7 linked regions of the Homo sapiens genome follow. The protein of the gene in region 3 interacts with the protein of the main gene of each other region in a biochemical or structural test. Each region holds a gene or a part of one and is shown on either strand. Other genes may lie near its edges. The genes, in order: CCNA1, PRDM2, RB1, RAF1, LIN9, CDK14 and RBBP7.

What was found.
Region 1: the proteins of RB1 (region 3) and CCNA1 form a complex in vitro, tested with the Homo sapiens proteins (2 studies listed by BioGRID, with this or other methods).
Region 2: the proteins of RB1 (region 3) and PRDM2 form a complex in vitro, tested with the Homo sapiens proteins (2 studies listed by BioGRID, with this or other methods).
Region 4: the proteins of RB1 (region 3) and RAF1 form a complex in vitro, tested with the Homo sapiens proteins (3 studies listed by BioGRID, with this or other methods).
Region 5: the proteins of RB1 (region 3) and LIN9 form a complex in vitro, tested with the Homo sapiens proteins (2 studies listed by BioGRID).
Region 6: of the proteins of RB1 (region 3) and CDK14, one has a biochemical effect on the other in vitro, tested with the Homo sapiens proteins (2 studies listed by BioGRID).
Region 7: the proteins of RB1 (region 3) and RBBP7 form a complex in vitro, tested with the Homo sapiens proteins (3 studies listed by BioGRID).

What each region holds. Positions count from the first base shown.
Region 1 is NC_000013.11:36,435,495-36,438,994, reverse strand, and holds part of CCNA1 (cyclin-A1), read right to left. Parts: intron 1,367-3,500; coding exon 1,120-1,366; intron 929-1,119; coding exon 804-928; intron 352-803; coding exon 128-351; intron 1-127. UniProt on the Homo sapiens protein: May be involved in the control of the cell cycle at the G1/S (start) and G2/M (mitosis) transitions. May primarily function in the control of the germline meiotic cell cycle and additionally in the control of mitotic cell cycle in some somatic cells.
Region 2 is NC_000001.11:13,698,794-13,702,987, forward strand, and holds the start of PRDM2 (PR domain zinc finger protein 2), read left to right. Parts: upstream 1-1,394; 5' UTR 1,395-1,507; intron 1,508-4,194. UniProt on the Homo sapiens protein: S-adenosyl-L-methionine-dependent histone methyltransferase that specifically methylates 'Lys-9' of histone H3. May function as a DNA-binding transcription factor.
Region 3 is NC_000013.11:48,380,251-48,383,750, reverse strand, and holds part of RB1 (retinoblastoma-associated protein), read right to left. Parts: intron 2,505-3,500; coding exon 2,308-2,504; coding exon of another isoform or gene 2,296-2,307; exon of another isoform or gene 1-2,295. UniProt on the Homo sapiens protein: Tumor suppressor that is a key regulator of the G1/S transition of the cell cycle. The hypophosphorylated form binds transcription regulators of the E2F family, preventing transcription of E2F-responsive genes.
Region 4 is NC_000003.12:12,608,618-12,612,117, forward strand, and holds part of RAF1 (RAF proto-oncogene serine/threonine-protein kinase), read right to left. Parts: intron 3,446-3,500; coding exon 3,333-3,445; intron 719-3,332; coding exon 616-718; intron 307-615; coding exon 149-306; intron 1-148. UniProt on the Homo sapiens protein: Serine/threonine-protein kinase that acts as a regulatory link between the membrane-associated Ras GTPases and the MAPK/ERK cascade, and this critical regulatory link functions as a switch determining cell fate decisions including proliferation, differentiation, apoptosis, survival and oncogenic transformation.
Region 5 is NC_000001.11:226,233,411-226,236,164, forward strand, and holds part of LIN9 (protein lin-9 homolog), read right to left. Parts: intron 114-2,754; coding exon 1-113. UniProt on the Homo sapiens protein: Acts as a tumor suppressor. Inhibits DNA synthesis. Its ability to inhibit oncogenic transformation is mediated through its association with RB1. Plays a role in the expression of genes required for the G1/S transition.
Region 6 is NC_000007.14:90,728,821-90,732,320, reverse strand, and holds part of CDK14 (cyclin-dependent kinase 14), read right to left. Parts: intron 1-3,500. UniProt on the Homo sapiens protein: Serine/threonine-protein kinase involved in the control of the eukaryotic cell cycle, whose activity is controlled by an associated cyclin.
Region 7 is NC_000023.11:16,860,363-16,863,862, forward strand, and holds part of RBBP7 (histone-binding protein RBBP7), read right to left. Parts: intron 2,739-3,500; coding exon 2,593-2,738; intron 1-2,592. UniProt on the Homo sapiens protein: Core histone-binding subunit that may target chromatin remodeling factors, histone acetyltransferases and histone deacetylases to their histone substrates in a manner that is regulated by nucleosomal DNA.

The sequences.
Region 1 (3,500 bases), about 12 Mb from region 3:
TTATCAAAGGACACATGACTAGTTTTAATTATCAAGCATTGCATTTCTTCAATAAGAAATAGAGGACAAAAATTCCATGTTTTGACAAGTGATAGTTTCATATTATGCAAGCTGAAAGAACACTTACGAAGCCAAAAGCATAGCTGCTGTTCCTACGAGCTGCAGTTTCCCTCTCAGAACAGACATACATGAAAGGAACCTGTCCAGGAAGTTGACAGCCAGATACAGGGTCTCTGCTCGAAGTTTATATTCTTCCCCAACCTCCACCAGCCAGTCCACCAGAATCGTGCGCATGCCTTCCGTGATGTCTGGCTGCTTCTTCATGTAGTGTGCTTTGGGTCTGTGCCTTATCTGATTGGGAAAAGGTTTTGATATTTAGTAGTTGCAATTTCAGAAAGATCATTCCACAATATAGTTGCTATTTAAAAATCTCACAAGCAAAGGTTGGAAAGATTCTGATCAGAGCCAAATAAATCTTTATCATAACAAGGAAGAAAGTGTAAATTTCTGGTTCTGTAAAGTAATTGGTTAGCAAATTAACCTGGGGTTGGGGGGGCAGGGGAGAATGGCAATATGAATTATTCCTAAGAGTGAAATATTTAACATATAAACCCTTTGAATCATGTAGAAATAGTCCAAGCAATTGCGACTTGCCATCACAACTATTATTTTTCATAGATATTCTTATGTTTAGCTGGCATAAGAGTGCCATTCACTAGTGGTTATGGACCAAGAGTTTATAATTTATCTTAGTAATAAGAGCTCGGGTCCTGAAGATTGAAGTAGAAGGTGGGAAAACTTACTTCAGCTTCCCTAAGGTACTGATAAATTTCTTCAGCATATTCAGTCACATTTATCACATCTGTGCCAAGACTGGATATATCTTCAGACTGGGAGAGGAGAGATGAATCTACCAGCATAGGGGAAACTGCAAGAGTTCAACACTGTCAGATAACTCATTTAATTTAAACATTTGTTCAATCCACTAACCCTCTACAGGCAGTTGTGAATACAGTTATTACTTGCTGTTTTTCTCTTGCTAGTTACTAGCTATTGAATGCTGCAGGCAGTTATAAATACAGGGTACCATCAGCCATCAACCATAGGCAAGTCAGTTACCTGTGTTGAAATCCAGCAGGAAGTGCAGGTCTGACTTGAGTGTGCCGGTGTCTACTTCATACACATCCTCAAATGCCATCCCCTCTCTGACCGAGCAGCTGTCTCTGTCCCCCTGCTCTAGTTCATCCATGTAGATGTCAAACCCTTGCTTGGGGGGCTCTTGGACCCCACAGTCAGGGAGTGCTTTCTTTCCAGCTGGAGGGAAGGCATTTTCTGATCCAGAATAACACCTGATTCTTGTGATCCCCTAAAAAACGTTTAAATCTTTTGTTAGAGGCCACGTCAAAGACCACAGAGGCAATGTGAACCTGCATGACTCAAACCAACAGCCTGGGAAGGTAAGATACATTCTAAACTGAAAAATCTATGTCGGCAATTTAATTCCAAAAAAAAAAGGTCTTCAAAAGTGTAATTTTTCCCCCCTTATCTTTGTCTACATTTGATATTTGGAGAAAGAGCTACCTAAAATTTTAATCTACCTCACATATGTATCAAAGGAAACTCAAGATTGTAGAAAAAAGAAAACCTATAGCTCTCTTCCAAAATGAAATGGGTACCACATATAAAGGGAAAACTGTAAATTGGCTTTCATATTTATAGCATCATGAGATTTTATAAGTAGTCAGCATAACTCTTGATGCAGTGACTGAGTTCCTACAATTCCCCTCCTTAAATAAATAACTTTTTAGCCAGAAGGCCCCTATAATGTTTCCATTTTATATCCACTTATTAAGAAACACGATTTTGGAAACTGATGCTGCTAAATTCTCTTACAAGCCACAGAACCTTTACGTATGACATAATGCATTTACTCTTGGGGAAATTTCTTAGTCACTTCTCCTTTTTCTCTATTCTTATAACATGAACAATGGGAACAACTGTGGTGCCGCCACAGTGAACAAGCATAATGCATCAAACACTGTTGCATATTAAGGTGAGCCATGCCAGATGGCATGAATGTCAGCTGAATCAGGGCAGGTGGGCAGCTCTATGAACCTGAGCTATATTTACGCAAATGCCAGCTCTGTCTACCACATTAACATTTTGTTTATAATGTATCTTGGTGTGTACTGTTGAAGGCTACTTCTAAGTTAGTAGGTGGTTCCATAACTCTCCCTTTTATTTATCAAGTTAAATAGGTGACTTATGTCTGTAAGAAAACGAACACTTATGGTAGTAATTGGGGGGAAATCACAAAGACAACAAAGAGTCACAATCATAAGTTACTGTAACCAGATAACCAAGTTACTGCGAAGTTTGACTCTTGCTACAACCACAGCTCCAAGTTACTGCCAGGTTTGACTCTTGCTACATAGATACTGTGTCCATAGGCTGGGACATATATTTAATAAACAAATATTTACTGAGTATCTACTATGTGCTAGAAGCTTTTCTCGTGCCCAGAATTTAGCAGTGAACAAAATGTTTAAAAAGAACTACCTTGATGGAGTTTATATTCTAGTCTGTGGAAGAAGACTGAAACAAACTAGAAAAGACACAGTAGGAGCAAACAGAGCAGAGTGAGACAGTCATATAGGCCATGAGGACAGAAAGAAAAAAGAGGCCAATCATGAAGCACTTACCATAGGCCAATTAAGGATTAGTTTTCATTACTATTATTTTGTTTTTGTTCACTTGCCAAGGCTGATCTAAGAATTGGCTTTTATTCAGAGACAGGAGCCACTGGAATTTTGGGCAAAGGAGTGGCATAATCTTTTCATTTCTTAAAAGGATGATTCTGGCTGTGCACAGGTGGAGAGTAAGTAAGCCAATCAATTACAAAACTTGAAAATTCTAAGTGAGACACAATAGGGATTTGAACCAGGGAAGTAATTGTAAACCATGAAGAGCAAAATAGTTCTAGACATTTAAAAAGTAGAGTTAATAATATTTTCTCATAAGATTAGATGTGGGGTGAGAGAAAAATAAGAATCGAGGAAGACAAAGGTTTGGAGGCTAAATAACAGAAAGGATGGCTACTCCATTTACTGAGACAAGGAAGACTTGGGAAGAGCAGTCTGGGAGTAGGGAAAAGGATGGGTGTTTCGTTTTATACGTTGCTTATTATATGACCTAAGTGGAGATGCCAAGTAGGCTCCTGAATATGTGAGCCTGCAATAAACCTCAGAGGCCCAGGCCAGAGATAGAAATATCAGTCATCACCAAATAGAGAGTGTTTAATGCTAGGAGACTAAGAGGCTACTAAGGGAGTGAGTGCAAGATTTAGATCAAAGACTAGGTCCTAGGGCACTCTAACTTGTACAGACTATATATATAAGTAACAATTAGAATATCAAACAGTGGCCAATGAGCTAGGTAGAAAACTTGGAGAGAGTGGTGTTCTACAAGCTGAATGAGAAGAAATTATTTCAAGGAAAAAA
Region 2 (4,194 bases), on a different chromosome or scaffold from region 3:
CCACCACGCCTGGCTAATTTTTTGTATTTTTAGTAGAGACGGGGTTTCACTGTGTTAGCCAGGATGGTCTCGATCTCCTGACCTCGTGATCCACCCGCCTCGGCCTCCCAATGTGCTGGGATTACAGGCTGAGCCACCGCGCCCGGCCTAGCCTCATTCTTTTACAATAAGATAACATGATATATGTTGATACAACACGTTTTCTTTCTTTTTTGAGATGGAGTCTGTCTCTGTCGCCCAGGCTGGCGAGCAGTGGGGCGATCTTGGCTCACTGCAAGCTCCGTCTCCTGGGTTCACGCCATTCTCCTGCCTCAGCCTCCGGAGTAGCTGGGACTACAGGCACCCGCCACGTCGGCCGGCTAAATTTTTGTAGTTTTAGTAGAGACGGGGTTTCACCGTGTTAGCCAGGATGGTCTCGATCTCCTGACCTCGTGATCCACCTGCCTTGGCCTCCCAAAGTGCTGGGATTACAGGCGTGAGCCACTGCGCCCGGCCAACACGTTTTCTTAAGATTAAACCTGTTACATAAATGATCGTTCATAATTTTTGGAAGCACACCTGCCCTTAGTATCCTGTTTTTCCACTGGGTGCTTTCTGCAGATGGCCAACGTAGCCATCACATTCGGATTCTTCCTGACTTCATTCTCAGAGGATTACTTTATCTTGAAGTGCTGAAGGCTCCAGGCACCATCTATAACGACAACTCCCAACTTTCCAGCTCATCTCCAGCCTGTGCTTCTCCCCGACTCAACTCATTTTCAACCACGTGCTAGGCCTCCACCCTTGGATGTCGAAGAGCCATCTCCAGTTCCACCCAGTTCATCTTCATCAGAACATCTATGAGTCGTCGTCTCTGCAGTCCATTTGTTTGCCCGCTTGGGAACAGCAAGCTCCTTAAGGGCAGGACTACTACCGCGCTCTCAGAGGCGCTGCACTGGAACATCGCGGGCACAGGGCAGCGTTGGTCACTGCTCCTGGGTACTAGGGCAGCAAATAAACCCAGCAGCTGCGTCTGTCTGCCTGGAGTTGGATCTTTTTGGTATAGATCCAAACGTAGAAGTATAAGGTCTACGTTTATGTACTTGTCAGATATTTAATGACCTCCAACGATAGACATGCCCCCCCAACACCTCCTTCAGTCTTTTTGATTCTTTGAGAATCTTTGAACCACGCAGGATCCTAGCCCTAGGGTGCGGTCGGACTTGCCGCGACGCCAGCCGCCGGGGTTCCTTCCCGAGGCGCCGCCATGGGATCCGCGGTGACCTACGAGGGGCGGCTGGGTGGTGGCCATTGGGCGACGGCGCAGGGTCAAGGGCCGGGCTCTGGGATCGTGGGGAGACCGGGGGTCCCGGAGCCCCCCAGCCCCGCAGGCCACTGCCTCGCCGCCCGACGTCACTTCCGACTGGAGTCAAGATGGCGGCGGCGCGGCCGCGGGCGCCGGGGCCGGCGAAACAGCGGCGGCGGCGGCGGCCCTCGGTGCTCTGAGGCGCTGGCGCGGCGGGCGCGGGTAAGGAGTGGCGCGGGTGGGCGGCCTCTGGGCTCGCGCCGGGACGCTGGTCCCTCCCCCCGAGGAGCGCGGCGGCGACGGCGGCGGCGACACGCTGGGGACCCGGCGCCGCAGGGATGGCCGGGTCGGCGGACGCGCCCCCTCAGAGGTCCCGGGCGTGCCGGGGGCCCCGGGACGAGGCGCGGGCCTCCGGGTCGGTGGCCCCGCGGGTGGGTGGCGGCGCCGGGCTCCTCCTTGTCGGCCGTGGGGTCCCTGCGGCGAAGTTCGGGATTCGGTTTGTCGCCGTGAAGAGCCGCGCGCCCCGCGGGGGACGCGTGCGGGCTGCAGAGACTGGCCGGGTGCGGGCGGCGGTGGGGCCACCTGGGGCCCCACGTGGGGCCGGGCGCCGTCCCAATTGTCAAGCCGCTGTGCTTTTCTCTTTTGTGTTCCCACTGAGTGTGTCTTGCACATTTGCACTCCAAATTTGTTTTGTGTCTTGCGTCTTTGTGTTTCCCAAATAGTTTTTGTGTGGTTTTAACCTGGAGATTGTCTCCCTCAATGTTCCCATAGACCCACGGGTGTATGTGTGTGTGTGCGCACGCGCGCGTGTGTGTGTGTTACAGACGTGCAACTCTGTTACTAATTTTGCTAATAAAGCTATCAATGAACCTCTTTTGATGGTGGTAAGTGAGACATGAAGTAAACCTAACAGGTCAGTGTCATTCCCCAAACCTTCGTGGTTCTTTCGATCCACGCGTGAGCCACCGACCCTCCGGGCTTGTAGCTTTGTGTCGGGCTGTGAGCTGCGGCAAAGACCCCATAGTTAACCGGGAAGTCCTGATTTCCTTAACTACGCAGCTGAAATTTCCCCTAACAGAAATTTCGTGCTGGCCCCTCACTTTTCTTTTAGTGTTGTATTGAGATTTTGGGTGTATTTGAGACGTGGAACGTCTTTTGCTGAATCCCAGTAGGTCCTTAGATCCCTTTAACCAGACACTAGAAGAATCATTTTTACCCCAGAACTCGACTAAAATGTTTAAGTTTTTGTTTACTCCAGGTTTATTAAAAGTGACCGAAACTTTTAACAACAAATGGAACTCTTCAATGATTTCTTTTACAATGGTACACACTTCGCCTCGGTTTGATCAGTTGTGTCCAAGTATTAGAAAAATGTAGGCCTTTTAAAAAAAAACATGATAGGAAATTTACATATATTAAGGAGGAGGAACTGAGACACACTGTCATACGTTCTTTTTTAGTAGGGTTCTGTGTTTTTGAGATGGTCCAAACTGCCCCATCACTCTTGAGGCTTCCGGACTAACACTTATTGGCCAAATTTTTACATGTAGAATCTTAGTTTAGCCTTGAGATGACCTTTAAAGATCATTTTTATTAAACCCCCTCATTTCGAGCTATGGAAACAAATCAAAATTCACAGTGGAACTAAAACTCATTTACATTTTCTGTGATTCCAGGGCTCTTTTTACTCAACACATCTGTTTTGGTTTGATTGAAATAAGTTAATACATTTTAAGTGCTTAGAAAAGTGCCAGAACATGATAATACTGCTCAGTAAATGTTTGCTTTTGTTGATTCTGAAGGTGGTTTCTTTAATTGAAAGGTTGGTATGTTCAGGTTTGTTTTTTCCTTATTTTGTGGACAGGGCCTGAAACAGTACAGTTTAAATCTGTAAGAATGTATTAATTTTGTAAGTACAAAACATAACAAAAGATTCTCACTGTAGAAAATTGGAAAGTAGAGAAAAGCACAAAGAAGAAACAGAAATTGGGCATAACCTTCCCCTCTTCAGATAACCATTGTTAACGTTTGGCAGATCTTCCTGTCTCTCTTGGTGTGGATATGCGTATTTCTTTCCTTATTTTACAGTTCATTCACATATATATATATTTATTTACATTTTATACAGGATTGATAATATAGTGTGTATATTGTTTGCAACCTGTCTTGCCTTATGATACGGTGAGCATGTATCCATGCCACTAACTAGTCAATATTATGTTTAATGGCTATTTAATATGTGGATGGGCCGTAAGTTATCAATCAAGTCCATATTGATCTGTAAGGTTTCTCAAGCCTGAGTTTTCTTTTCATTAAGATTTGTTTGAAAGTTTTTTTAAAATCGTGGGTTTTAAAGTTCTGTAATCTTTTGAGATTACAGTGAAAAATATAAATTCTGCTTTTTAGCATCTAAATAAGCATTTTTCTTGCGGGTGCAGTCATAAGAAGTAACACTCAATTTCAGCTTCCTTTCTTCCGTTCTTGGCTGTGGCTGTGCAGTTATGTACATATATCTGCGCCTATTCTTTTGATGATTATTTTACGTTAGATGTTTATTTATTCATGAGACTGTTTCTTTAAGCAGCCTGTTTCTTTTCAAGTTCCAAACCTGATTTACAAACCCTTTTTAAGTCCTGTTAAATCATAGACTTTCCAGGATGGAAAGCACCTTAGGTTATTTACTATTTTCATGTCTTCTGAGTAGCTTTTCATGTTATTTTTAATACTCATGCAGAAAAAAAACCAAAACAGCGGACTTCTACTAGAAAACTCCATAATGGGGAGTGGAAGAGGAGGAGGTTGATGGTTGGGGGAAAATCGTCAAACTTGCATGACGATGGGTAGCTAAGGGAGTTTCCAGATGATGAGGGACATCACCTGACTGTCCTTACCACAGATAACTGCCGCCC
Region 3 (3,500 bases):
TCAGAAAGTTTTCTTCTAAGTACTCCTTATCAAGTGTAAATTCATTCCATAAGTAGTTATGAAATTCAATAATAGGAGTGTAACATTCTTCTATCAATTTCCCATGTTTCTCTCCTCTATTCACTCTGTCTATATGGCAATACAAGAAAACACTAAGAAATAAATTATCGCTTAGTCATTAAAAATTCAAAACGTAAGGAAATTAAAACTAAGGTTACATGTGCAAATTAGGATTATGGCATACCTAAAGTCTTAATTTTTTAATTACCACTTCTATATACTGATACAAATTAAAAGATATATACTTAGCATGCAACACAGTTTCAAAAGAAACCATTAATTTACAAAACTGATGATTCACAAAGTATTATCCAACTATGTTGATTTGAAGAGCATAACCTCAAGTTGCCACTTTTATTAAAACAAAAGCCTTATCAATAGTTATAATGCTATAAAGAGAATCCTAGACAATATAATTTGTGCCCCTATATTGATTGAACCAATACCTATAATTGAACAATAGTATACATTTTTATACTTTAATAATGGGAAAAAATGAATCCTACTATATTTAACAAGAAAAAAATGCACTTTTTAATAATCTAAATAGCATAATCTCACAATTTAAGAGCAGACATTTGCATTTTCAAATATATAACAACTGTACTTTAAATAAATTATCTAAATACTTTAAAGAATTCTGTTTTGGTTTAGAACAGGGCCCTCAGAAATAATACCACACATCTACAACCATCTGATCTTTGACAAACCTGACAAAAACAAGAAATGGAGAAAGGATTCCCTATTTAATAAATGGTGCTGGGAAAACTGGCCAGCCATATGTAGAAAGCTGAAACTGGATCCCTTCCTTACACCTTGTACAAAAATTAATTCAAGATGGATTAAAGACTTAAATGTTAGACCTAAAACCATAAAAACCCTAGAAGAAAACCTAGGCAATACCATTCAGGACATCGGCATGGGCAAGGACTTCATGACTAAAACACCAAAAGCAATAGCAACAAAAGCCAAAATTGACAAATGGGATCTAATTAAACTAAAGAGCTTCTGCACAGCAAAAGAAACTACGATCAGAGTGAACAGGCAACCTACAGAATGGGAGAAAACTTTTACAATCTACCCATCTGACAAAGGGCTAATATCCAGAATCTACAAAGAACTCAAACAAATTTACAAGAAAAAATCAACCCCATCAAAAAGTGGGTGAAAGATATGAACAGACACTTCTCAAAAGAAGACATTTATGCAGCCAAAAGACACATGAAAAAATGCTCATCATCACTGGCCATCAGAGAAATGCAAATCAAAACCACAATGAAATACCATCTCACACCAGTTAGAATGGCGATCATTAAAAAGTCAGGAAACAACAGATGCTGGAGAGGATGTGAAGAAATAGGAACACTTTTACACTGTTGGTGGGACTGTAAACTAGTTCAACAGTGTGGCGATTCCTCAAGGATCTAAAACCAAAAATAGCATTTGACCCAGCCATCTCATTACTGGGTATATACCCAAAGGATTATAAATCATGCTGCTATAAAGACACATGCACACGTATGTTTATTGTGGCACTATTCACAATAGCAAAGACTTGGAAGCAACCCAAATGTCCAACAATAATAGACTGGAGTAAGAAAATGTGGCACATATATACCATGGAATATGTGGCACATATATACTATGCAGCCATAAAAAAGGATGAGTTCATGTCCTTTGTAGGGACATGGATGAAGCTGGAAACCATCATTCTGAGCAAACTATTGCCAAGACAGAAAACCAAACACTGCATGTTCTCACTCATAGGTGGGAAATGAACAATGAGAACACGTGGACACAGGGTGGGGAACATCACACACTGGGGCCTGTCATGGGGTAGGGAGAGGAGGGAGGGATAGCATTAGGAGATATATCTAATGTAAATGACAAGTTAATGGGTGCAGCACACCAATATGGCACATGTATACATATGTAACAAACCTGCACGTTGTGCACATGTACCCTAGAACTTAAAGTATAAAAAAAAAATCCGTTTTGTTTTAAAGTGGCATGTTTTAAGAAAAGCTATTCTTAAATAAATCACTGTGCTGTATTAGATGGTTTAGGGTGCTCGATTAAAGCTCCATTCTAATATTCCACTTGATCCTTGGGCTATAGACTGAAATAACATTATTCATTAAATTCCCTATATGTTCTTGAGGTAGATGTTAAGAAACACCTCTCACTAACAATAATTTGTTAGCCATATGCACATGAATGAATTTCTTCAATTATTTAGCTACTTACTGAGAGCCATGCAAGGGATTCCATGATTCGATGTTCACATCGTTCTAAATGTTTTATCATTTCTCTTGTCAAGTTGCCTTCTGCTTTGATAAAACTTTCGATCACTTTGTAAAAATCAAAGGCTTTTAAATTAAGCACATTCAGAATCCATGGGAAAGACAAATCTGTTCCAGAATCAAGATTCTGAGATGTACTTCCTAAAAATGAAAAAAAAAAGTAACTATTTATGAAATATTAACCCTTGAGCTAGGTATTTTTTTGGAAGTTATTATCAGACAAAGAAAACAGTAGAAAGGTTAAACCATTTTTATTTAGAGCAGAATTTTTTATTTTGGAGTCTACGGACTCATAGGAAATAGCCTTCCAATTTTGAGTGTAAGCAAATCTGTGTTTTTCCTAGAGAAAGGACTTATAGCTGATCTCAAATTTTCAAAGATTTAAATACCCTAAACTTATATCAGGAACAGGTTTAGTATCTTATCAGCCATTGGCATATCTATTTTAATTCTCATTAATCCTTGGTAAGAGGATAGACAGATTCTTCAAGATTCTGCTAATTTCATTAGTTACAAAATGGTATCTCATTAAAATATGCATTTCTTGGTTATAAATGAGGATTCACAGTTTTCCTTATCTGTTTACTAATAAGGAAACTAAAAGTTCCTCTTTTTCTGTGTTTTGCATCCTTATACAAATGTTCCTTTTGTTTCTGCAAGCAAAACTTTCTTTTAACATTTGCAACATAATTTGCAAAGTGATATACATTTATGTTTTTAAAAACATTGTAATTGGCCTTTGTTCTGTTTATCCAGTGGATTCTAGCTTCAATCTTTAGTTTCATAACCATGGAGGTTACAGCAGTGCTTCCATATCAGTAGAGGCCACTCTTGAATACTCCTTTGGCACTCTACAATCTCAAAGGTCTTCGGAGGGATTTCAAAAAGTACCTTTTTTGGATTCAGTATACCAGTATACTCAGAAGAGAAGCCTAGTGAAATATTATCCCCAAGATGGCCTCAAATAACTCAAATAAGCCTCTTAAATGGCTTATAATGACCAATTACATTCTTCAGTATATAGTGATCTAAAATAAGCATTCCTTCTCCTTAACCTCACACTATCCCTCTCCCCCGACCAAAGAAACACACCACATTTTAACTTTAAATTGAACAAAAGTGTTTATTTATGAAAAT
Region 4 (3,500 bases), on a different chromosome or scaffold from region 3:
TATCACTGTTTCTAAAGTAGTTTCTGGATCACAATTCATTAAATGAGTCTAGAATCCAGACCTGTCAGTCAAAATCTACAACAAATACCCTTTAAAGTATGTATACTCCTCATCCCTATCTTCCTTGGATAAAAGAACAATGCCTTACAAGAGTTGTCTGATGTTACTCCAGTCCACACACATAGTAGGTACTTTGGTGCTACAGTGCTCATGAAATTTGTAGCCACAAGTCTGACATCGAAATCCATTGAGCAGGAATTTCTGACAGATGTCACAGAAGGCAAGCTTCAGGAACGTCTTCCGAGCCTACAACAAGAACACAGGTGTAAATTATGCTGAATAAATAAAAGATGACAAAAGACAACTTCATTTCTTGGCCTCCAAAAAAGTTTTTACAAAATGAATCATACTTCCAGCATGTACAGAATTCATAATCACAAATTAGAGTATATCTCTGACTAATGAAATCTAAATTGCCTTACTGTAAACAACAGCATAAAGAACTTTAAACAATCCAACTATATATATATATACATACGCATATTACCTGAGAAATCTCTGTTATGCCTGGCAAAGCCCTCAACATGCCAGAAAGAGAAGAGATCTGCAACTTACAAAGTTGTGTGTTGTGAGGGGAACATGATCCAGGAAATCTACTTGAAGTTCTTCTCCAATCAAAGACGCAGCATCAGTATTCCAATCTAAGCGTGCTTTTTTACTAGAAAGGATTTAAAAAAAACATGAAATGTTTAAACAAGATCAAAGTTCAATAGAAATAACAACAGCTACCATTTATCACATGCCATATAAACACAACTTTATTTAATCCATACAACAATAATTTATTTAATTCATACAACAAACCTATGAAGTAGGTATTATTTCTATCTGAAAAATAAGAAAACTGGGACTCTAAGAAGGTAATTTGCTCAAGGCCACACAGCAAGTTTAAGGGCCTATGTTGGAATCTAGGTCTGTTGAACTCCAAAGCCCATGTTCTCAGAATAAAGTTTTCTCTTTATTTACTTAAAAAAATGTTTTTTGGTAGAGAGAGAGTCTTGCTGTGTTGCCCAGGCTGGTCTTGAATCCCTGGCCTCAAGCGGTCCTCCTGCCTCAGCCTCCCAAAGTGCTGGGATTACAGGTGTGAACCACCATGTCTGGCCAGAATAAAGTTTTCTTTAAACAATGATATATAAAATCTCACAATAAAGTCAATATACGTTAAATTGGAATTTGTAACACTAAAATCTTACAAAAATCCCCAAATCCTGTAAAATGGATTATAAATATTGCTGCAGTACAAAATTTAGTCTTCAGTAGCCTATTTCAATCTAGATAAATAGAAAGGAACCACAAATGAAAAATGTACTTTTCTATTAATTAATAACAGACTCAAATCTGTAGTTGTAGGGTCTATAAGTCAATGAGAAACTTAACTGTCTTAAAATCTACTCTGAAACCACACTTTCTGTGCCTACAGTATAAATAAGACAAAAAATAGATACATAAGTAAAAAGTAATGCCCAATTCCTTTCTTATGTTTTATCCAGTTAATCTGGCCCATTTTCCAAAGGAAGAATATTCTCAGGTAAAGAGAAAATAACATGTATAGCACCATTCAAGCCTCTCCATTATCTACCAGAAGCCTAGTCAAGCCATTTTTCTCACTATCCAACAGTAAACAATACATTCCTTAATATAATTACCTATACAGCACCTGGAAAACTTCCTATAACTCCAAAGGACTATTTTGCCCTTATGAAGAGAAGGAGGACAAGCCTTATTTTCTCATCAATCTGCAGACTGATCCTAGTGACAATCTGCTGTCTGTCCTAGAGACTCCAGAGTAGCTCCAAACCAGTGCAGCCTTGGATGAGAGTAGACCAAGCCCTCCCTGTCTCAGAATCTCTCTAGTCCTTAAGGAACACTATGGATTGGCTTAGGGACCCAACCTGGGCTACCTTCAGCAAAAGTTAACGTCTGCTTCAAAGATTTGCACTTCAACAAACGCCTCCTAAATTGAGAATTACACTCACCCCTTCGAGTAGATTCATTCCCTGGGCTATTCTCCCAAACTGCAGAACTCTTTGAAACATGAAAAAATGTAAGCTAACGATGAATAACATAAGTGACGCTTTCCAAGAAGAGGGTAAAAAAGAACCCTTTAAAGGTTTCCCTATATTTTCGGGGTGGAGGGAATAATGGATAATGGATAATTATGGACAGCTCTGCTGCTTTGAGGTATTACTCCTAGCCTTTGAGGGGATGCCTCTATCTTGCCACCACCATTAGGAATAGGATAAACCATGAATCTTCCCTGAAGCAGAAATGCTTCTGCATCTTTAAACAATCTATCAAACAGCAGGGATTAGTACACATTTAACTGAATAAAAAAAAAAATTAGTGAATGAGAAAAGTCAATCTCCCGAGGATAGCATTCTTTATATAAAATAATGCACTTTCTGAGTGCCCAGTCTATATAATGCATTAGAGTAAACACAAAGAAAAATCTTTGTCTCAAAAAAACACAGCATCTAACATCACTGTTTCCATCCATGGAAACATTATCAATACCTAACATGTGTTTGTTTTTGTTTTTTTGTTTTTTGGCTTTTTTTAATAGACAGGATCTTGCTCCAGCCCAGGCTGGAGTCCAGTAGCACAATCATGACTCACTGCAGCCTCAAGCCCCTGGGGTCATGCAATATTCTCACGTCAGCCTTTCGAACAGCTAGGACTACAGGGCCGCACCACCATGCCTGGCTAATTTTTAAAAATCTTTTGTAGAGATGGGCCTTCGCTATGTGCCCAGGCTGGTCTTGAACTCTTGGCCTCAAGCAACCCTCTTGCCTCAGTTTCCCAGTGTTAAAATTACGGGTATTACCATCCTGGCTAACACGGTGAAACCCCGTCTCTACTAAAAATACAAAAAATTAGCCGGGCGCGGTGGTGGGCGCCTGTAGTCCCAGCTACTCCGGAGGCTGAGGCAGGAAAATGGCGTGAACCCGGGAGGCGGAGCTTGCGGTGAGCCGAGATCGCGCCACTGCACTCCAGCCTGGGCGACAGAGCAAGACTCCACCTCAAAAAGAAAAAAAAATTACAGGTATTGGTCATCAGGCCCAGCTTAACGTGTATTTAACTTTTCAAGAGAATGTCCAAGCAATAATTTCAATTTCTTAATACCTATTTTTCTGAATTATCTCTTTATAAAGAAAGGTATAGAAATATACAATATTCTATAGGAAGCTAGTACAATTTAATACAAACATAGCTATTTGAAGCTAGAAGATCCTTACTAGTCTGAAGAAGTCAATTGACTTTTGAGCTCTTACCCTTTGTGTTCGTGGAGAAGTCTGAACACTGCACAGCACTCTGGTTGCAGGCCCCTCACCTTGAGTGCTTTCATAAGGCAGTCATGCAAGCTCATTCCATTTCGCACATTGACCTACAAACAAAGGACCACCTTTAGGACCAACACAGGCTGCAGCACCCCTTGGAAA
Region 5 (2,754 bases), on a different chromosome or scaffold from region 3:
GGCTGTCCTGTTGAGGAATTTGCATGCCGAACAATTTCCTGTGCTTCTTCCTCACACCTGCGTCTCATATCTGTTGGCTGATCTGCAGGCTGGAGCCCCTGGTCTGGAGCAAGCTGAATACAGATGATTGAAGCATGAGACGCATGTTCGAGAAGCCATGATTATTTCTGTATGTGTTTGTGCCCTCTTTTCAGATTTTAATTTTTATAAAACTAGCATTTAAAACTAAAGTGGTACTCTTACCTTAGAAGTTTTTTTCCTTTAACAGTTTCTGATTTTCTATTTTTTGTAATTTTTAATTTTGATATAATTTCAAACTTCTAAAAAAAGTTAAAAGAATAAAACAAAGAACTCTTGATAACATTTACTCAGATTTACTGTTTATGTTTTACTACATTTGATCTGCCATTTGATCTCTGTGAATGTATAATTCTTCCCGTTACTAATTTAAGAATAAGTTGCAAACACTGTGCCTCATTACCTCTAATCACTCCAGTTTGTATTTCCTTGGTATTTTTGAAGAGTACGAGCCAATTATTTTGTGTAATATCCCCCAATGTGGGTTTGTTTGTTTCCTTATGATTAGACTGAAGTTATGCATTTTTGGGCAGAAATACTACAAATGTGGTGCTGAGTTCTCTGGCATCTTTATTAGAAGGCACGTGATGTTGACCTGTCCCATTACTGGTGATGTTCTCTTTGATCAATTGGTAAGTTAAGTGTCTGCCAGATTTCCCTACAGTAAAGGATTTCCTTTTTGTAAGTACTAAGTAGTTGTGAAGAGATACTTTGAGGCTATGTAAACATCCTATTTGTCATCAAACTTTTACCTACCAATTTTAGCATCTGTTGATGATTCTTGTCTATATCAATTATTACTATGATGGTTGCAAAATGGTGTTTTTCTCACTCTTAACACTGCTTCTATATTTATTAGTTGGCATTTTACTACAAAGTAGTTTCCCTTAAAAAATGAACTAGTATCAGTATGAACCCATACTGACATAACTTTTATTCTATGGGTTATAATCTCTTACTATATTTATTTATTCTGAAGCTCAAATTGTCCCAGATTTGGCCAGTGGGAACCCTGTCAAGCTGGCCCTTTTTGACACGTCCCCGTAATTTGGGGGCACATTTTACTTCCTTGGCATAATAAGGTGGGCCGGGCTCATCTTCTTTCTCTGCCTCAGGTCTGGAATCAGTCTCTTTTTCAAGAAGTCCTGCTTTTTTAAATTGGAGAACAGAGATAAGAGACCAAGATCTGGGTCTAGTGTGTTCTTTGCTATTAGGGTGTCTTTGCTTTTGGCTCTCTCAGCAGACATATACACTCACTTATACATATAGCATAAAGATAAAATAAACCATGAATTCATACTGATTCCCCCTATTCCCATCTAATGCCACAGGGTTCACTCTAGTCTTCCCCCTCTTCATAACTGCCTTCTTCAACAGTGAGAAACCTGGCTCGCGTTATCCTAAATTTTTTTTTTTTTTTTTTGAGACAGTCTCACTCTGTTGCCCAGGCTGGAGTGCAGTGGTGCGATCTCAGCTCACTGCAACCTCTGCCTCCCAGGTTCAATATACTTATTTGCTTCTTTGCTCAGTCCTAGAGTACACAGTAAGAGTTTCAGAACTGCTGCTGGGTGTGGTGGCTCATGCCTGTAATCCCAGTACTTTGGGAGGCCGAGGTGGGTGGATCACCTGAGGTCAGGAGTTCAAGACCAGCCTGGCCAACATGTCTCTACTAAAAATATAAAAATTAGCTGGGCATGGTGGTACATGCCTGTAATCATAGCTACTGGGGAGGCTGAGGCAGGAGAATCGCTTGAACCCCGGAGGCAGAGGTTGCAGTGAACCGAGATTGCGCCCCTGTACTCCAGCCTGGTGGACAAGAGCGAAAATCCGTCTCAAAAAAAAAAAAAAAAAAAAAGAGTTTCAGGACTGCTATGCATGCCACCAAGAGAAAAAATTCTACTAACTAGAGTTCAATGTTTATTTAAATTTTGGTTCAGACTAAAGGTATACAGTCAAAATATAAGTTGAGTATCCCTTATCCAAAATGCTTGGGACCAGAAGTGTTTTGGATTTAGGATTTTTTAAAATTTTAGAATATTTGCATTATACTTACCGGTTGAGAATCCCAAATACAAAACTCCAAAATCCAAACTGCTCCAGGGAGCATTTCCTTTGAGTTTCACTTTGGCACTCAAAAAATTTTGGACTTTGGAGCATTTCAGACTTGGGATGCTCAACCTATGCTATGTTCAAGCTATCTGAATCAGTTTTTATCCCCTTCAGTAAGTTTATGTCACTCCTTTGAAATATAGTTAGGTTCATTTATTTCTGTTTGCATTTACTTGTATTTGTTGGGGAAACAAACACTCAGAAAAATGTCATTCCTTCTTGCTCACCAACTCCTACCCCATTCCCAAATTAGTTTCTAATGTATCCTTTCTGCTTCCTTTTGAAAAATTAAGCTGATACATATACATTGTATTTCCACTTATTTCCTACTCCAAAGGTTATACTTTGGAATATGTATGTGTATTTTCGTATTTGCTTTTTGCATCTAATAACATATCCTGGAAATCACTCTGTGTCAGTAAATAGAGAACTTCCTCTCTTACAGCAGCATAGTATTCAATTGTGTGGATGTACCATAAATAGTCAGTTCCCTATGTGTGGGCATTTATGTTTATTTCTAATATTTTTTAATTACCAATAATGCTTCAATGAATAACTGTATCCTTT
Region 6 (3,500 bases), on a different chromosome or scaffold from region 3:
CAGAGACACAACAAAAAAAGAAAATTTCAAGCCAATATCCCTGATGAACATGGATGAGAAAATTCTCAATAAAATACTGGCAAACCAAATCCAGCAGCCCATCAAAAAGCTTATCCACCATGATCAAGTCGGCTTCATCCCTGGAATGCAAGGTTGGTTGAACATAAGCCAATCAATAAATGTAATCCATCACATAAACGGAACCAAGGACAAAAACCACATGATTATCTCAAAAGATGCAGAAAGGGCCTTTGACAAAATTCAACAGCCCCTCATGCTAAAAACTCTCAAGAAACTAGGTATTGATGGGATGTTTCTCAAAATAATAAGAGCTATTTATGATAAACCCACAACCAGTATCATACTGAATAAGCAAAAACTGGAAGCATTCCCTTTGAAAACCGGCACAAGACAAGGATGCCCTCTCTCACCCCTCCTATTCAACATAGTATTGGAAGTTCTGGCCAGGGCAATCAGGCAAGAGAAAGAAATAAAGTGTATTCAATTAGGAAAACAGGAAGTCAAATTGCCTCTGTTTGCAGAGACATGATTGTATATTTAGAAAACCCCATCATCTCAGCCCAAAATCTCCTTAAGCTGATAAGCAACTTCAACAAAGTCTCAGGATAAAAAATCAATGTGCAAAAATCACAAGCATTCCTATACACCAATAACAGACAAACAGACAGCCAAATCATGAGTGAACTCCCATTCACAATTGCTACAAAGAGAATAAAATACCTAGGAATCCAACTTACAAGGGATATGAAGGACCTCTTCAAGAAGAACTACAAACCACTGCTGAAAGAAATAAGAGGACAAAAACAAATGGAAAAACATTCCATGGTCATGGATATGAAGAATCAATATCATGAAAATGGCCATACTGCCTAAAGTAATTTATAGATTCAATGCTATCCCCATCAAGCTATCATTGACTTTCTTCACAGAACTGGAAAAAACTACTTTAAATTTCATATGGAGCCTGCATAGCCAAGACAATCCTAAACAAAAAGAACAAAGCTGGAGGCATCACACTACCTGACTTCAAACTATACTACAAGGCTACAGTAACAAAAACAGCATGGTACTGGTACAAAAACAGATATATAGACCAATGAACAGAACAGAGACCTGAGAAATAACACCACACATCTACAACCATCTGATCTCTGACAAACCTGACAAAAACAAAGCAATAGGAAAAGGGTTCCCTATTTAATAAATAGTGTTGGGAAAACTGGCTAGCCATATGTAAAAAGCCAAAACTGGATCCCTTGCTTACACCTTATACAAAATTAACTCAAGATGGGTTATAGACTTAAATGTAAGACCTAAAACCATAAAAACCCTAGAAGAAAACGTTGGCAATACCATTCAGGACACAGGCATGGGCAAAGACTTCATGACTAAAACACCAAAAGCAATGGCAACAAAAGCCAAAATTGACAAATGGGATCTAATTAAACGAAAGAGCTCCTGCACAGCAAAAGAAACTATCATCAGAGTGAACAGGCAAACTCCAGAATGGGAGAAAATTTTTATAATCTATCCATCTGACAAAGGGCTAATATCCAGAATCTACAAAGAACTTAAACAAATTTACAAGAGAAAAAAGAAAACAACATCAAAAAGTAGGCAAAGAATATGAACAGACAATTCTCAAAAGAAGACATTTATGCAGCCAACAAACATGAAAAAAAGCTCATCATCACTGGTCAGTAGAGAAATGCAAATCAAAACCACAATGAGATACCATCTCACGCCAGTTAGAATGATGATCATTGAAACATCAGGAAACAACAGATGCTGGAAAGGCTGTGAAGAAATAGGAATGCTTTTACACTATTGGTGGGAGTGTAAATTAGTTCAATCATCGTGGAAGACAGTGTGGCAATTCCTCAAGGATCTAGAACTAGAAACACCATTTGACCCAGCAATCCCATTACTGGGTATATACCCAAAGGATTGTAAATCATTCTGCTATAAAGACACATGCACACGTATGTTTACTGCAGCATAGTTCACAATAGCAAAGACTTGAAACCAACCCAAATGCCCATCAAAGATAGACTGAATTAAGAAAATGTGGCACATATACACCATGGAATACTATGCAGCCATAAAAAAGGATGAGTTCATGTCCTCTGCGCGGACATGGATGAAGCTGGAAACCATCATTCTCAGCAAACTAAGAGAAGAACAGAAAACCAAACACCACATGTTCTCACTCATAAGTGGGAGTTAAACAATGAGAACACATGGACACAGGGAGGGGAACATCATACACCAGGGCTAGGGGAGGGATAGCATTAGGAGAAATATCTAATGTAAATGACAGGTTGACGAGTGCAGCAATCCACCATGGCAAGTGTATACCTATGTAACAAACCTGCATGTTCTGCACATGTACCCCAGAACTTAAAGTATAATTTTAAAAAAAGAAAAAATATATTTTTTAAAAGGGCAGCAAACAGAAAGGACTCAGAAAAAAACAGGATATTATAGCATCCTGCTGAAAGAGAAAACGAAGCCATTTCCAGTTTGATAAGGTAAGAGAAAAGACATTTTTCCAGGGCACATTGAATTGAAGCAAAAATTCCTAAAATAAAAAGAAAGCAAAGCAGTTCCCACACAAAGTAATATAAATGACCTAATATATATTAAAAAAAGTCATCCCAGGGTGAACCAGGAAAGGGTAAGCCCAAGATGATCTAAAGAAACTAAAAAATACAATAGAGAAACTGTGAAAACTTCCAGTGAAACTTGATGGCTTGAAAACATGTATTTATCTCTCCCCCTTACCAATTCATACTAAAACAATACTAAAATTAAAACCCATAAGGGCAATCAAAATGAGTAAAGAGAACACTAGAGACGAGATAGAAATAAAAATGTAAAGACAGGACACAAATGGTTGAGAAGTCACATTGCCTAGGATGAGTGGGGAAAAAAAAAAAAAAAAAAAAAAAAAAACCTTGATACCTACATGATCCAAGGCATAAGCCAGTAAGAAATAAGTCAATTCATACTTCAGAATCCCAAAAATACTCACAAACTGGAAGCTGAAGTTCAAGTTGGGGCTACAAATGATATGATTAGTTGGAGTGAATTTAAGGTGGAGGTCTTTGCCCCAGTCTCCCTCGGCCAGCCCCCTATCCCTTCCTAGTCCCGCCAGAGATTTATTCTCTGAAGAGGTTGAATCAGAGAATTCAACTGGGGCTTGGATACCAGGCAGAGTGGATATCAGATTGAAGAGTCATACCGAATGAAAAAAAAAAAAATCATGAGAAAGTTGGCATAGAGAACTGAAGGGTCCTCAGTCCCTTCTTGATCATCTCAGAATAGTGACAGCTAGGTTTATATGTCCTAAAAAAAATAAATTGGGTAAGTCCATTTTGTGAGAAACACCCAGTAACAAAAACAAGATCAAGAGACAGCGACATTTGAGAGTACTTAAATAAAACGACTAGGTCTTCACCAAGAGTCCCTATGCTGAA
Region 7 (3,500 bases), on a different chromosome or scaffold from region 3:
ACTGTCTTAATGATAATATCCATTAAAAAATGTAACTCAATATTGGCCGGGCGTGGTGGCTCATGCCTGTAATCCCGGCACTTTGGGAGGCCAAGGCGTGCGGATCATGAGGTCAGGAAAGCAAGACCATCCTGGCTAACAAGGTGAAACCCCGTCTCTACTAAAAATACAAAAAATCAGCTAGGTGTGGTGGCGGGCGCCTGTAGTCCCAGCTACTCGGGAAATCGCTTGAACCCAGGAGGCAGAGGTTGCAGTGAGCTGAGGTCACACCACTGCACTCCAGCCTGGGTGACAGAGCGAAACTTCGTCTCGAAAAAAAAAAGAAAAAAAAAAAGAAAAAAAAAATATATATACTGAATATTAACAAAGGTATTAACTGAATTATTTCAGCTACTTGTTAGAATACACTGGATGTGTAACTTTAATAATATATTAACATCATTATGCAGAGACTGTTAAACTGCAAGCCCGGTAAATACATACTTCAGGGCTAAAAGCCATTTAAAAATTTCTGATTACAATATATTCAGGCCGGGAGTGGTGGCTCATGCCTGTAATTCCAGCACTTTGGGAAGTTTAGGCAGGCGAATCACTTGAGGCCAGGAGTTCGAGACCTGCCTGGCCAACATGACAAAACCCAGTCTCTACTAAAAATACAAAAATTAGCCGGGCATGGTGGTGGACGCCTGTAATCCCAGCTACTCTTGAGGCTGAGGTACGAGAATCACTTGAACCCAGGAGGTGGAGGTTGCAGTGAGCCGAGATTGCACCACTGCACTCCAGCCTGGGCGACTGAGCGAGACCCTGCCTCATAACAAACAAAAACAAAACACAAAAAAACCCCAATATTTAAAGAAATAATGCATACAGTTGTCGGGGAATGAACAGTAAATTGTGGGAGTAGTAAACTGGGTAAATCACTTTGGAAAATAGTTTTCTATGAAGTTGACAATGAATACACCATACAACCTAGCAGTTTCACTACACTAGAGAATGTAGTATTTTTGAGACAGGATCTTGCTCTGTTGCTCAGGGTGGAGTGCAGTGGTGTGATCCTAGTTCACTACAGCTTCGAACTCCTGGGCTCAAGCGATCCTCAGCCTCCCAAGTAGCTAGGACTACAGGCATGCGCCACCACACATGGCTGATTTTTAATTTTATTTTTTGATAGAGACAATGTCTCACTGTGTGCCCTGAGTGGTCTTAAACTCCCAGGCTCAAGCGTTCCTCCTGCCTTGGCCTCCCGAAGTGTTGGGACTATGGGTATAGCCACTGCACCTGGCCAGTATTTTATTTTCAATAAGAAAAAAACCCTAAGGCACATATTAGAAAGTGCTAATAGCGTTAAGCCATTTGGGACTGTGAAGAAAGAGTTAATACAGCAGTCTGGGTGCTTAGCCCTGGAGTCTCTGAGGAACACTGGGACCCTATTACTGACCCTTGGCTAACTCCTGGGAACATGCACCTCAGAATGTTCTTTCTGTCACTGATGAACTGATGATTTTGTGGTGTGCACCTGGAGCAATGGACCGCGTTGTACCAGTTTGTCAGGGTTACTCTGCAGATATCAAGATTGATGACACGTACCTTCTTTTATTACTGGGTCCTCAGTTTGTATTACTGGGGTCCTCAAGTTACAGTTGCTGTGGCTGGTTGTCAGCAGGATGTGCCTATGCAACTAGTCCCCCAAGAAAGCCTCAGACCCCAAGACCCAAACAGGCTTCCCTGAGCAGAGATATTTCACACATGTCCCTGCAGTTTGCTGCCGGAAGACACATCCTGTGTGGCCTTGGACAAGACTTGTGCCAGACCTCCCTGAACTTGCCGATGTACATCTTTTTCCTGCTGCTTTTGTGTTCTTTACTGTAACAAACTTTAGCCACAAGTATAATTTGCTCTTGGGAGTCCTAGCAAAATCACCAAACTTGGGGTGGTCATGGGAATACCAAAACAGGAGAGTATATGTTTGACAAATTAAAAAAAGAAAAAAGCAGCCAACAGATTCCTGAATTAACCCTACCACTACTGCCTCTCTCCTCAAACAAAAAATACCCATTGCACACACCAACACATATTACTTTTACCAAAGTGGAATACTGTAATTACACATAGCAGTTAGTCACTTAATTTATCTTGGATACCTTCCTATACCAGTGCCTACAGATTTTTCTCATTAAAAAAAAAAATTTTTTTTTTAAATTTTTGGTAGAAATGAGGTCTGTGTTTTTCAGACTGGGCTTGAACTCCTGAGTTCAAGCAATCCTCCCACCTTGGCCTCCCAAAGTGCTGGGATTATAGGCGTGAGCCATGGCACCTGGCCTTTCTTATTAATTGCTGAGTAGTATTTCAAACATACCATGTGCTTAACCAACTTTCTATGAACCAACATCTGGGTTACAAGGTTGATCCTAATTTTTCAATTCTGCAATTACGACTAAAATCCTTGTGCACATGTGGGTGGGAAGTTCTGTAGAATAAAGTCCTAGAAGTTAAATTACTGGGCCAAAAGCTAATAGTATAGTTTTAATAGCATATGCTTTGAAAGAGACATTTTCCCTTTGACACCAATATTGGAATATATGATATACCTACCACCCTTGTCACTGTCACAATGGGAAGCATCAAACTGTGCATCATCATTGGGAATATGTACTCGAGCAACCACCAGATGATTCTGCTCATCAGACGTATGAGTCCCCAGCACTAGCCAATGAAGGGCATAATCTTTTCCTTCAGGTCTGTTTAAGAAAGAAAATAAGTCACACTAATCCTACAAGAAATCTCCAATTGCTAACAAATTCAGTCTAGTTCCCTCAAAATACATTCATATTTCTTTAGCAAATATATACTTAGCATCAACTGTGTATCTTCTCCCCCTCTGGTTACCAACTTTACAATCCCCACATATGCAAATATAAGAAAATATTCTAGCTACAACATGCAGAGGGCTTGCTTCTTTCCCAAAGAGCCATCCTCCTGTGCCTCAATTATCAGCGTGAACACTACCTTTTATAGAGCAGCACTCCGGGGAAGGTAGGCCCAACTCAGTAAACACAGACAAACATCTACACAGGAATCCACCAACAATCCCCACACTCATAAATCACAACTTCCCACCTAAAGAAATCTTCTTCCCACCTAAAAATATCTTATACACTAGATGTTTCTTATTTCCCAATAAGAAATTCTACAAGGTAGTATGGACAGAAAGTGTTGAATCAAAAAAACTTAGCTTAAATCCTGGATCAAACTAAAATGCAGTTGCTTAAAACACAACCTCCCTGGGGCCTCAGTTTCTTCACTGAATAAAATAGGCTATAAGTGCAAATGGCATGATGTGAAACTCACTGACGTTTATGATACCTAAGTTTATGAAACGAACATTCTCAATTTTACCGAGGTATCTTTGTTACCTTGTTCTGTGGAAACACCTTGAGGCTGAAGAACTTGCCCAAACCTCTTGGCACCTTGGTCCGAGCAGTGATTTTTGCATCAGTATC